Linked DNA regions of Homo sapiens. The protein of the gene in region 1 purifies or fractionates together with the protein of each later gene. This does not show direct contact. Each region holds a gene or a part of one and is shown on either strand. Other genes may lie near its edges. The genes, in order: ADCYAP1, AMD1 and STK3.

The links.
Region 2: the proteins of ADCYAP1 (region 1) and AMD1 purify together in Homo sapiens (affinity purification with mass spectrometry; 3 studies listed by BioGRID and IntAct, with this or other methods). This does not show direct contact.
Region 3: the proteins of ADCYAP1 (region 1) and STK3 purify together in Homo sapiens (affinity purification with mass spectrometry; 4 studies listed by BioGRID and IntAct, with this or other methods). This does not show direct contact.

What each region holds. Positions count from the first base shown.
Region 1 is NC_000018.10:910,127-912,692, reverse strand, and holds the end of ADCYAP1 (pituitary adenylate cyclase-activating polypeptide preproprotein), read right to left. Parts: 3' UTR 521-2,566; downstream 1-520. UniProt on the Homo sapiens protein: PACAP is a neuropeptide involved in diverse array of physiological processes through activating the PACAP subfamily of class B1 G protein-coupled receptors: VIP receptor 1 (VIPR1), VIP receptor 2 (VIPR2), and PACAP type I receptor (ADCYAP1R1).
Region 2 is NC_000006.12:110,893,877-110,896,256, reverse strand, and holds the end of AMD1 (S-adenosylmethionine decarboxylase proenzyme), read right to left. Parts: 3' UTR 544-2,380; downstream 1-543.
Region 3 is NC_000008.11:98,819,054-98,822,718, reverse strand, and holds part of STK3 (serine/threonine-protein kinase 3), read left to right. Parts: intron 1-3,665. UniProt on the Homo sapiens protein: Stress-activated, pro-apoptotic kinase which, following caspase-cleavage, enters the nucleus and induces chromatin condensation followed by internucleosomal DNA fragmentation.

The DNA.
Region 1 (2,566 bases):
TAGGCTGGGTGTGGTGGCTCACGCCTGTAATCCCAGCACTTTGGGAGGCTGAGGTGGGAGGATCGCTTGAGCAAGACCAGCCTGGGCAACATAGTGAGACCTGGCCACTAAAATAAAAAATAAAAGAACAATGTTAGATTGCTATTTTAGATGTGTAACTAATGCTCCAGCATTGTCTCCCACTACTACCTAGTAACTTTCTGAATATTGAGCAAAGTATATACACACTAGGGGATGGAAATTAATCTAAATTGTGTGTCTTATAATGTTGCAACATCATGCCTGTTTATGAGCTTAAAACCTTCTTAGGCATCTCCATCTGAGTAGCTACTTTAAATTTTTAGCAGAATCCAGTTGCCCATCAATTATTAAAGTGCAGTTCATGAAAATACAAGGGTGCTTAGATAGATATATATTCCAGACGTAAAAAAATCTTATGGTTGCTAAAGAAATATAATACTTTAAGAGATTTTAAAGTAATTATTTCCTGAATGTCTTTTTTCCCAAACATTAGACCAAGTTGCATTGTTTACAAAAATTTATTCATACAAATTTTACACACTTTATATAACAGTTATCAAAGTCCTAGTTATAGATATCATGTGTGTAATAATACTTGGTTAAGGTGTTTTTATAATCAGTTGCACACAAAATAAGAGCTTCAAGACTAACATCTACCTAAATTATCACTATATCATAAATCTGCTTCAGTTTAGTAAGGCTCTTGGCATTTCTAAAAAGTATACAAAAGATTAAACTGGGTGATCACTGTAAAATGCTTGCAACTAGCCACGGGAACACTAAATTAGACTTCATAAATAAAAGGTTAACTAGAGCCCTATTTCACCACTAACAGCTGATACAAATACAGAAAACTCTGCCCATTATCCAAGAAACAAATAATTAAGACTAAAATGCAAGCTGATGTGTTGCAGCATTGTAGGGCCACTAAATAGCCATCTGTGATTCGTGGCAATTTAAAAGGCGAAGAAAGGCACTAAAGCTGCAAACTGCATCCCGTGTCACATTGCCTGAGGAGACTGCGGAATTAAAGGAAGATTGATCCTATACACAGGACTCAGGCATAGACCGAATGCCTCTGTTTTCACTATTTGCAATGTGATCTCCTGGCAGCATCCATCCCGCCTGGGAATGCAAATCCAATTCTGTTTTCTTTGATTTATGACTTCATACTGATCAAATCCGTAAAGGAAAAGGAAAGGTCCTTTAAACTTTACAAGCTAACGTTTAATCTTTCCTTGTTCTTTTTTTTTTCTTCTTCTTCATCTTCTTTTTTCAAAACATAAAAAAATAAATAAATAAACTTGTGCCTGAAATTTGGGAGATTGGCTGGCTGGTTTGTCTGTTGCTGCTCGATCTGATTGCTGGGTGAAGGTTCTTTTGTTTATAAAGATTACTCTGTATGTTCAAAGAATTGACAGGAAACAGACATGCTTTCTTTAGCCAAAGAAAGGATACAAGCGTAGGTTCTCAGGGTCTGTTGGAGCTTGCTTACCTCACTCTTGACCACAGATATAAGATAGTACTCATACATATGAAGAAGAGGATTAAATGATTTATCAGTTAGCAAAACTGAGCAACATGTGAACACTACACATTCTAATATGACAAAGGTTGGTTTTATGAAATAAATTTTACTAAGCAATAAGCAATAATGTAGAAAAATACATTTTACCTACAAACTCAATAAACAAGAAACAAAGGGTTCATATTTAGTGCATAATTACTTACTAGTGGCTACAGAGGGGTTTCTAAAATTTACAATAAGTGCCTGCATCAAACAAAAAAAAAAAGTGAGAAGCATTCACAAGTTTAAGAGAAGTGAATGAAAAATGGTAAACAGTACTTAAACAGTGCAGGAGGGTAGGAAGGAGAGGTCTCCATAAAACCACAAAGGAAAAGGGTAGCTCCTACAGAGCAGGTTTCAAAGGAGAGGATCCTGGCCATTTCACAAGATGAGAAGCATGGACAGCACTGGAGAAAAACACATTGTACTTTGCATCCATTTCCAATACCCAGCGCCCAAAGTCAGGACCATTGGGACTGGATTTGCCCTCAGCTTCCCAGACCTGGGGCAATCTCAAACCAGTCCATTTCCAGGGTCCTCCTCCTACCACCTCAGGCTCTGCCTCTTCCAATATACCTCTATGTCCTTCACTTTGTTCCAATTGCCCTAATTTGGGGATATTAGATTCCCTGGCCACTCAGGAAGTACAGAAAAGAGAGCGGTCTAACGAAGCCGCCCTTTTCTGTACAGTTCCTCAACTCTTCTCCTAGGGAGAGGCGTGAATTCTGGGGAGAAGCACAATTTGGATCGAGCTGTTGTTTTATCAGGAGAATTTTCTTCTGGGCTGAGAGTCTGAAGAGAGACAACTACACATAAAAGGAGAATCAAAGAAAGCAGAAATATTGGAATTGCCACCCAACCAGGGGGACAGAGCCCAGTTGAGTTAGGCTGGGATTGAAGCAGCCTGCCCCAGAGACTCACTGGGAAAGAATGCCCTTCAGCAATTCTCCATATCTTTACCTCAAAATCTCCCTGGAG
Region 2 (2,380 bases), on another chromosome or scaffold:
GGAAATATTTTCTAACGGAAGCATATTCTGAGAAAGATCAGAATATACATTTTCATAAGATTTTTCAGCTTATTACATATTTGACTGTGGAACTAAAATGTTGCCAAATAAAGAAAATGACAAAGCCAAGTGTGATGGCAGAACCCTGCATTCCCAGCTACTTGGGAAGCTGCAGCAAGACTGCTTGAGCCTAGGAGTTCAAGGAAGCAGTATGCTATGATCGCACCTGTTAACAGCCACGGCACTCCAGCCTAGACAACAGAACAAGATCCTAAATTAAAAAAAATAAAGAAAATGATCAAGGTTATAAATTTTTTTCTACTTAATAGAAATAACCATGAATGAAATAAGGAAACTTATTTGAGTTTGATCATCCTCAACCAATGTTTTAAGAGTCTAGTCTATAATAAAGGTTGGGACCTAACACTTTTAAACTTCTGTCTAACTCCAAACTCATAAATACACATTGTTGTATTGATTTTAAACTTCAGACATGTAGTATTTGGTCAAGTAGGCTACTTAAAAAACAGGGCAACAGAAAAGTTTCTGAATGTCACTAGACAATTAAACTTTTATTGAAGCGTAAATTGTGGTACAGAAATACATTTCAACTGATTTAAGTCCAACACCAGTGAAAGGAGAAATTATGGCACCAAAACTTTCCCTCTTCTATCATACGATGATTTAGATTATGATTCAAACTACATTTCTCTTTTCTAGGCTTTGTCCCATAAAAATTTGTGCAGTTTTTCAACATTAGAATTCTTAATTCTATTGGAAACAAAACAAAACAAAACAAAACAAAAACAAAACCAAACCAGACCTCAAGTCAACAAATCTATTGGGATATTGTTTACGAACAAAGTCCACCTTAAGCATTGGTCCTCAAAACAGAGCTCCTCAAAATATTAGGTGCTGTGCTCATTACAGAATCAAACTGATCACACTGATTGAAAACTTCCTCAATGAAATTTTCAATCAACAACATGCTTCAAATAAAAGTCAAACAGTGTTCCAACCACTTGATTTCAAACCAAGTAGATTTTAGGTTTAGAAACACTAAAAAAAGGTGTTTCATTTATAAATACGGAAGGAACAAAAACATCACTGCATCAATCCAGAAATTATCAAAATATTTAGAGGACAAGAAATATAAAATTTAGTCAACTTTGCTGTTTTCTCAGTTCCTTAAAATCCCAGAGAATCTGCAAATATAGCTAAAAGGTACCAACTCTTGAAAGCCTATATTACTAGTCATTTCCCATTGAGTATTTTGGAATTTTATTATTCTATTTATTCATATTCTACTTATTTATAATGTATTCTGCTTTATGATGTTTATCTGAATAATCTGGACAAATTCTCATTCTGGGCAGTCATTCATTTCATCCTATGAATGCCATGGTAAGGGAAACACCGTAGTTAAGAGGAACAGATGAAGTCGGAACACTCACATGCATCACAGTCACAGAACTTTAAGTCACGAGATGGAAAAGACATTGATTCTGCTTTGGATCAAAGTTTATAGAACACTACTTAATGGAAACTAGTGGAAATGGCTGCTAAAGGAAAAGTTAAGGTGAATGATCCAAGCTGACTTGATTTACTGAATCCAGAACAAAATTATGCTAAATCTCTCTGGTAATTAACTAAATAAAAATGATTTTATACTACTACTAAGTTAGTAAAGGGGTGCTACTCATTAGACGCTAATCTCATTTACTGAGGAACACAGAATTGTATGTTTTCCACAGTTCAGCCAGTACACCCTAATCTCAATCTACAACTCTGGGTCTTCCCTGCTAACCAACTATTTTCCAAAAGAGCACATTACAATAAAAGAGAGGCTAAATTCCCATGCCCTTTAAAGAATATTAAGCCCAGGGACCATCTCCCCCATTCCCCATCTGGGGTATAGAATTAGTATATAAACCCACAGTGTTAACAGTGTATTGCTTTATTTGGGGTCTTGGGGGAGACACCAGGGAGAGGGAAGAAATCAAAGGACTATAAATGCAGGGTCCAATAATGTTAAAATAGCAAATATGCAAAATGAGTAACTGGAATCATTTTCTTAAGGACTCAACTCATGGAAGAAAAACTTTAATTGCTGTTTCCAAAAACATCAGTATGAAGTAGAAATTGGTTTCAATAACATTAGTAAAGAATATGTTCTAGAAAGTGGAGGTAACTGGATGTAAAATTCTGGCAGCAATTTAATAGAACAGTCCTAGAGGGTTAGGCTGAGGCCAACACCTAATGAGGACGAAAGCCTTGTCTGTGGGGAATTTTGGATGATACTTGGAGAAATATTACACTGTGCATAAACCAAATTGAGTTGCTTTCACAAGTGTTGTAAAGTTTCATATAGTAAAAGGTT
Region 3 (3,665 bases), on another chromosome or scaffold:
TGTGGGTACTCCCAGCTTTACCTTTATTCACATTTTTCCTTTAGAAAAGTTTGTGTTACTTTTTGCCTGAAGAATAATCTATGTTTTATTCTTCCATCAAAGCCTACCTCATCAAGTATGTTTTCTGAGTACTTTCTAGCCTGAGATATTTCACTGAATTCCTAATGTGATATACATTTGATTATATACCATCTTTTTATTCTATTTTATTACAAAATTTTAGATATCCAGAAGATAATGAGGGCCTACTGCGATGGTGCACGCCTTGTAATCTCAGCACTTTGTGGGGCTGAGGTGGGAGGATTGCTTGAGCCCAGCAGTGGGAGGTTTCAGTGAGCTATGATTGTGCCACTGCACTCTATCCTGGATGACAAAGTGAGACCCTGTCTCAAAGAAACAAAAATAAAAATAAAAACAAAACAAAAAGAAAAAAGAACAGAGCCTAATTTAATAGATACTTAGGTATTACCATCCAGTTTAAGAAATATTAATAAAAATATTACCAATACATTTGAAGCCACCATGTGTATTTCTTCTCAATTACACTCCCTTCCCATCCCCCAAAAGGTAATCACTGACATGAATTGGATATTTGTCCTTCCCATACATGCCTTTATATTTTTAGTATGTTACATATATATGTGTGTGTGTATGTGTGTGTGTGTATGTATGTGTGTGTATATATATATGTATGTATGTACACATATCAACACATAATGTTAGGCATGGGTATTAGGCCTGGCCTTGTCACTGACTTTGAAATTTGCTTCTTTGGGCATCTTCTTCTCCTCTGGGAGTTGGAGATTCCAGTGTGTAGCCCAGTTCAAGAATCATGACTCAGAGACCTAGATGATTTTTAAGGCACCTCTCACCCTCATATTCATTGATTTGGTCTCCTTAACAAGGTTTGTGTTAAACATAGGCAATAGATGTGGTCACCCATGTCACCAACTTGAGGTACCAGAGTAGTTTTTAGATTCCTTAGATTTCGTTAACATACTTGTCACTGAGGTCTTCAGAAGTCCTTTTTTTTCTTTTTAACTTTTTTTTTTTTTTTGAGATTGGGTCTTACTCTATCGCCCTGGCTGGAGTGCAGTGGCACAATCATGGCTCACTGCAGCCTTGACCTCCCTGTGCTCAGGTGATCCTCTCACCTCAGCCTCCCTGATTAGCTGGGACCACAAGCACGCACCACCATACCTAATTTTTTTTTTTTTTAATTTGTAGAGATGAGGTCTTGCCATGTTGCCCAAGCTGGCCAAAGTCGTTATTAAAAGGATTTCCCTCTGGGAAGGGAAATTCATTAAATCATAGATCCCCAACCATTTTGGCACCAGGGACCAGTCTCGTGGGAAACAATTTTTGCACAGATGGTTTGGTTGGGGGCGAAATGGTTTCAGGATGAAACTTCCACCTCAGATCATCAGGCAATAGTTAGATTATCATAAGGAGCGTGCAACCTAGATTCCTTGCATGCACAGCACAATAGGGTTCGCACTCCTATGAGAATCTAATGCTACTGATGATCTGACAGGAGCTGGAGCCCAGAGCAAGGGCGGTAATGCTCGCGTATAGCTCACCTCCTGCTGTGTTGCCTGGTTCCTAACAGGCCATGGACCAGTACTGGTCCACTGTATTGTGCTGTAAAGGAGTTGGGGACTCCTTTATTAAATGATCATTAATTAGCATTTTGGTTAGATGGAATTTGTTGGATTTATTTTATTATTTTATTATTTTTTTTGAGGTGGAATCTTGCTCTGTTGCCCAGGCTGGAGTGCAGTGGCACAATCTCGGCTCACTGCGAGCTCCGCCTCCCAGGTTCACGCCATTATCCTGCCTCACCCTCCTGAGTAGCTGGGACTGCAGGCGCCTGCCACCACACCAGGTTAACTTTTTTGTATTTTTAGTAGAGATGGGGTTTTACCGTGTTAGCCAGGATGGTCTCGATCTCATGACCTCGTGATCCACCCGCCTTGGCCTCCCAAAGTGCTGGGATTACAGGCTTGAGTTACCGCGCAGCCGAATTTATTGGATTTTTTATAGGGGAACTGCTAGCTGAGAGAAAAATGACCACATAATAGTCCAGCTTTGATAGGTAGAAAGGTAAATGACCAGAAAACATGGGCTCTTCACCAGGTGGAACCTTCATAGAAGGGAGGTGGGTCTCTATGATAGACAGGTGGGCAGCATGAAAATATATTTAATACTTGTCAAAGAGAGGACAGAATATCACTGCTGGAGTGAGACACTTTACCAGATAGGCTTGTTCCTCAAATAGGTTATAGTGTTAGTAGTTATTTAAAATGTGTAATTCGTTGATTAAGGTATGGTTGGAGGGCAGGTTAGCATTGAACAATGAAAACACTAAAAGGATAGTAAAAGAATAAGCTATTGAAGCATACTTACTCTCAAGACAGGTGAGTTCTTTAATTTAAGCTATAGTTGGATTCTGTGGCAATTTTTTATTATTATTTTTAATAGTGTGAAAGGGTAGTTTGGGGGAAATAAAATTGAAGGTTGAAGTCATATGTTAGGGGTCCTTCACGCAAATGGAAAGCTAGAAAACACTAATTTCATAAGGGCAAATGAGTGTTTGGATGGATTACCCATCAGAAAACAGATTATTATGGAAAGAAAAAGCAAAGGGATCGGGTTGAGAATATAGAGGAGTTAAGCAGAAAGTACTCATGAATTCTTCAGCATGAAGAGCCCACATCAACTTGTAGCATCTGTAGCCCGGATCTCAGGCCAGGAATTAGGAATGGAGAGAGATAGCAGATAACTCTCAGCGCTTATGAATGGAAGTGGGTGAGAGAAAGCAACACACCAGTTAAGTAGATAGTAGGAATATCACAAAGATATTATTGCAGGGAGAAGAGGGGTGGATGTCATTTTATGTGTATATTTCTAATTTATGTTTCCTTGGAATGTTGGAAAGTAAAATTGTGTGTATATCAGAGAGATTGACTAAATAGAGAGCTGGAGTTGTCTTTGAGAAGATGAACTCTAAGAACTCTTAAAAAAACCCCAGCAGACTCAGAGGAAGGCCCTAGGGAAAATTTCCAATTCTAGAGGTAGGCAAGTGGACAAAATATTCAAAGTAGTTAGTCCAAGGGGAAAAGAACCAACCAAACAGGAGCATCTCTGAATTAACAACTTGGTCCCTAAAGCATCTGCTGTCTTCCCTTTGGCTTTTCTTGGTTAATTTAGGGTGGCATTAACTTGATTAGGATTGCTTTAGGCCGTGCTGATGGGAATAGTCAGTTGGCTCTTCCTTCTTGGAGAGAGGGAGTGCGACAATAAAATTTGCAATACTTCCGGTAAACAAACTTCTGTTGCATGTCAACTAGAGAAACTCAGTCTTTAGTTGACTCTAGGAACACTTCAGGCCATCATATATTACTGGCTTTCAACATTTAAAAAAAAAAATTCATTGATACTGAGACTCAGTACAGACCCACACATTTACATAAATGGGAGGTAGAGGTGGGACAATTGCTTGAGCTCAGGAGATTGAGGCTGCAATGAGCCATGATTGTGTGGATGCATTCCATCCTGGGCAACAGAGCAAGACCCTGTCTCAAAAACGTTCATTGGGCTGGGCACGGTGGCTCACGCCTGTAATCCCAGCACTTTGGGAGGCTGAGGTGGGCAGATCATGAGGT